Linked DNA regions of Homo sapiens: region 2 is linked to region 1. Evidence: fine-mapped expression QTL. Tissue or cell type: aorta. Region 1 holds a variant in brackets; the other region holds the start of a gene. All regions are shown on one strand. Distances are between the middles of the regions.

What was found. PIP is the estimated chance that this variant, and not a neighbour inherited with it, causes the effect.
Region 2: it holds the start of SLCO4C1, and the variant in region 1 is fine-mapped to the expression of SLCO4C1 in aorta (GTEx, PIP above 0.99).

The regions. Positions count from the first base shown.
Region 1 is chr5:102,645,632-102,648,246 of GRCh38, reverse strand. All of the region lies in intron 1 of LINC00491 (long intergenic non-protein coding RNA 491), which reads left to right. Among named protein-coding and RNA genes, the nearest start is that of LINC00491, 25 kb to the left of the region's middle. The variant A/G (reference allele first, on the strand shown) is at 1,043.
Region 2 is chr5:102,294,864-102,297,478 of GRCh38, reverse strand. SLCO4C1 (solute carrier organic anion transporter family member 4C1) reads left to right here and starts at 1,195. Exons shown (of 13, transcript NM_180991.5): 1 at 1,195-1,571. The coding sequence starts at 1,217. RefSeq lists an enhancer at 1,230-1,429.

The DNA of each region.
Region 1 (2,615 bases):
TTGTGGCAAGTGACTGAATCTTGTTCTTTTTTTACGGATGAGTAGTACTCCATGGTGTGTAAGTACCACATTCTCTTTGTCCATTCACCTATTGATGGACACTTAGGTTGCTTCCAAAGCTTGGCTGTTGTGAACAGAGCTGCAATAAACATAGGAGTACAGATGTCTCCTCGATATATTGATTTTTTTTTTATCTTTGGTGGGATCCAGCAGTGGGATTGCTGGATCATATGGTACCTCTATTTTTAGTTTTTTGAGGAACCTCTAACCTGTTCTCCGTAGTGGTTGTACTAATTTACATTCCCACCAACAGCGTCTGAGGGTTTCCTTTTCTCCACACGTTTGCCAGCATTTGTTATTGCTTGCCTTTTGGATATAAGCCATTTTAATAACGAGGGTGAAATGATATCTCATTGTAGTTTTGATTTGCATTTCTCTGATGATCAGTGATGTTGAGCACATTTTCATAGACCTGTTTGCCATTTGTGTGTCTTCTTTTGAAAAATGTCTATTCAAATCTTTTGCCCATTTTTTTTCATTTTTTCTTTTTTTTTTTTTTTGGAGACAGAGTCTTGCTCTGTTGCCCAGGCTGGAGTGCAGTGGCTCAATCTTGGCTTACTGCAACCTCCACCTCCTGGGTTTAAGTGATTCTCCTGCCTCAGCCTCTCGAGTAGCTGGGATTACAGGTGCATGCCACCACGCCCTGCTATTTTGTATTTTTAGTAGAGACAGGGTTTTGCCATGTTGGCCAGGCTGGTCTCAAACTCCTGACCTCAAGAGATCCACCTGCCTTGGCCTCCCAAAGTGCTGGGATTAGAGGCATGAGCCACCACACCCAGCCCTTTTGCCCATTTTTTAATTGGATGATTACATTTTTTCCTATAGAGTTGTTTGAGCTACTTACATATTCTGATTATTAATCTTTTGTTAGATAGGTAGTTTGAAAATATTTTCTTCCATTCTGTGGATTGTCTCTTCACTTTGTTGATTGTTTCCTTTTGCTGTGCAGAAGCTTTTTAACTTGATGTGGTCTTGTTTGTCC[A/G]TTCTTGATTTGGTTGTCTGTGCTTATAAGGGTATTTCTCAAGAAATCTTTGCCCATACCAATGTACTGGAGAATTTTCCCAAATGTTTTCTTGGAGCAGTTTCACAGTTTGAGGTCTTAGATTTAAGCCTTCAATCCATTTTGATTTGACTTTTGTATATGATGAGAGATAGGGGCCTCATTTCATTCTTCTGCATATGGATATCCAGTTTTCCCAGCACCATTTATTGGAGATTCTGTTGTTTCCCCAGTGTGTGTTCTTGACATCTTTGTTGAAAATGAGTTCACTGTAAGTGAGTGGATTTGTTTTTGGATTCTCTATTCTGTTCTATTGATCTATGTGTCTGTTTTTATCCCAATACCACTCTGTTTGGGTTACTATAGCTCTGTAGTATATTTTGAAGTCAAGTAATATGATTCTCCAATTTTGTTCTTTTTGCTTAGGATGGCTTTGGCTATTCTGGGTCTTTTATGGTTCCATATTATCTGAAGACTGTCTTTGATATTTTGATAGGGATCACATTGAATCTTTAGATTGCTTTGGGTAGCATGGACATTTTAACAGTATCGAACCTTCCAATCATGAACATGGAATATCTTTCCATTTTTGGTGTCCTCTTCAATTTCTTTCATAACTGTCTTATAGTTTTTATTGTAGAAAATTTCCACTTCTTTGATTAATTCCTAGGTATTTATTTTATCTGTGGCTACTATAAATGAAACTACTTTTTAAATTTCTTTTTCAGTTTGTTCATTGTTGGCATATAGAAATGCTACTGATTTTTGTATGTTGATTTTCTATTCTGCAACATTACTGAATTCGTTTATCAGTTCTAATAGTTTTCTTGTAGCGTCTTCAGGTTTGTCCAACTAAGATCATATCATCTGCAGACAGGGATAATTTGATGACTTTTTTTCTAGTTTGGAATCCCTTTATATCTTTCTCTTGTCTGATTGCTGTAGCTAGGACTTCTAATACTATATTGAATAACAGTGGTGAAAATGGGCATCCTTGTCATGTTCTAGATTTTAGAGGAAAGGCTTTCAGTTTTTCCCCATTTGGTATGATATTAGCTGTGGGTCTGTCATATATGGCTTTTATTATGTTAAGGTATGCTCTTTCTCTACCAATTTTTAAGGGTTTTTATCATGAAGGGATGTCACATTTTGTCAAATGCTTTTTTACATCAATTAAAATGATCATATAGATTTTATTTTCATTGTGTTGATATGATGTATCACATTCATTGATTTACATATATTGAAGCATCCTTGCAACCCTGGGATAACTCCCACTTGGTCATAATGAATGATCTTTTAAATTTGTTGTTGAATTCTGCTTGCTAGTATTTTGTTGAGGATTTTTTTTTTTGCATCAATATTCATAAGAGATACTGGCCTGTAGTTTTCTTTTTTTGATGTGTCTTTGTCTGGTTTTGGTATCAGGGTAATACTGGCCTCATAGAATGAGTTTGTAAGTATTCCCTCCTCCTCTATTTTTTGGAGTAGTTTGAGTAAGATTAGTATTAGTTCTTCTTTAAGTTTTTGGTAGAATTCAGCAGTGAAGCCATAG
Region 2 (2,615 bases), 350 kb after region 1:
AGGATTACAGGCGTGAGCCACCGCGCCTGGCCCGGTAGAAATTATTTACATGATTGTCATCACTGTATATCTTACATATGCAATATACAGCAGAGAGACAATTTCTGGTCCTTCAGTTTCGGAGAAGGAAAAGCAAAGCAGTGGTTATGCTGTGATGTTCATCCTGGTGGTGATGGGGGTGGGGTGGGGTGGATTTCTTTTTCTAAGGAGGACTGAGGCAGGAAAATAGGGTCTGGAGGCAGGAAACATAAGGCCTATTCACACTTCAGCTGTAACAGGAAATATCCTCTCCATAGGGCGTAGGCCATAAATGACTTTGTAACTTTACTTCATCTTCTCCCTTTACATAGGGCATACCCAAAGTAACCAATGGAATCCTCTAGGGGGTATTTAAACTCCCCAAAATTCTGTAACCGGGCCTTTGAGCCCCTATGCTCGCCCGTTCCCACACTGTGGAGTGTACTTTCATTTTCAATAAACCCCTTCATTCCTTCCTTGCTTTGTTTGTGCGTTTTCTTCAATTCTTTCTTCAAGATGCCAAGAACCTGGACACCTTCTACCAGTAACAGGATGACAGGCAAGAGTCTTATCAAGATGCTCATGAACCAAAGTATACCTCTGACGTCTTGATTCTTGGAGTCCAAGCCTAGACTGCTTTGGTAAGCAGCAAAGGAAGAAAACGCAAGATAGTTTCCTGAACAATCTCCTGATGCAACTGTTTACAGGTTTCATGTCAGCACCCAAGGGGAGCTTATGGCCAGAGACTCCCACAGTCTCTGTGTGTTCCCAGTGCTTGGGCTCAAGGGAGGCGCGCTGCGGGCTGAAGGCTCAGGTCAGAACCGCAGGGGCTTGGGCGGAGGCGGACTCCGGTCGAAGGCTGTGGGGTGAGAACTCTCGCCCCCTCTACTCGGCCGCCGCCGGGTGGCACGCCCACGCCGCGCCTTCCGGTTGGTCCTTGAGGCGACGGGTGAGGCACAGCTGAGCGCCAAAGCCACAGGCTGGGGCGCTAACGCCCCCGCTCAGCGCTCTGCGCTCCAGACAGCTGCGAGCTGGAGTAGGAAGGTTCAGGCGGTGGCGGAGAGTGCGCTGGAGGCTGGAGGGCCAGGAGGCGGGAAGCTTCCCGCACGGGGGCGCTGTCACCTGCCTGTGGGAGGAGCCAGAGAGGGACCTGGCTCTGCTGCTCTGAAGCACCGGAGTCGGGAGAACCCATCCAGACATGAAGAGCGCCAAAGGTATTGAGAACTTGGCTTTTGTCCCCTCCAGCCCAGACATCCTGCGCCGCTTGTCTGCGTCGCCCTCCCAAATCGAAGTCTCTGCCTTGTCCTCTGACCCCCAAAGAGAGAATTCTCAGCCACAGGAGCTTCAGAAGCCCCAGGAGCCCCAGAAGTCACCAGAGCCATCTCTGCCTTCAGCCCCTCCCAATGTCTCCGAAGAGAAGCTCCGGTCACTGTCGCTGTCCGAGTTTGAGGAGGGGTCTTACGGCTGGAGGAACTTCCATCCTCAATGTCTCCAGCGCTGCAACACACCTGGAGGCTTTCTGCTTCACTACTGCCTCTTGGCCGTCACGCAAGGTAAAGTCCAGCGCCCGCTTGAGGCTCGGGCCAGTGGAGAGCGAGGTGGGCACGGCGAGCCAGCCGGGGGAGAGGGCAGGTGCGCGGGGTCCGTGGGACGGTGGACGCGCCCTGCAAGGTGGCCCCGGGTTTGGAACTTGCTTGCGCTCTCACCAAGGTCAACCTACCGGCCCCCAGCCAGCCTTCCAAAGTTCAGCTTCTCCTTTATCACTACAGTTCAAACTTGCAATACAAGCCTTTTTCTCTTTTGTGTTTTACCTCAGTTTAGCGGATTCAAGACTTACAGGGAAGATTACAAGAACCTTCCTTTGGGAAAGGTATACCCTGGGGAGTTTATTTTACATTATAAAGACAAAAATTTACCTAGGCACTCTTTAAAGGTATTTTACTTTTACATTTGTTTCATTGCCTCAGGGGAAGGAGTAATACGTTTGCAGGTGGGAGTGGGATGCCTTACAAGGAAGAAAGCTATGAAAAATCTATCGTATAAATTAGATACAGACATTCATGTTTTGTGAGTGTATTTAGTTTGAGAGTATGTGGTCACCAGAGGAGCCCAGTGAGTAAATTAGCAAAGGCTCCCGACGTTGTTGAGCCTTAATCTTCATTGTGTTACATTAGTTATCCAGCATCTGTTTTGTTCTAGGATCTCTTTTAGGTTCTCTTGGGAGTTACAGATTCAGTTCAGATTTATACCCTCAGGGGCTTGCAATCTAAGCTCAGTTTGGAGGAGTGATATCCTGGAGGGAGAACAGCTCCCTTGAAAGAAGGCACAGGGAAGGTTAAAGCTGCTTCTGGTGTGTTCAATACAGAGGTTGAAGGAAAATAGGAAGTTAACCTGAGTTGACTTTGAGGAAGGGTGGAGAAGAGGTGGAGAGGAGTCAAGAAGGACATGCCGAAGCTTAGCTGAATTGGAATGTAGATATTTTTTGGTCACTTGAGTCATAGTCCGAGAATATTTTCTGTATAATCAGTCAAGGATTAATTGGAAGAAATACAACCTTAGAAATATAGATTTTAGAGGGTTGGAAACAGCTCATTTTT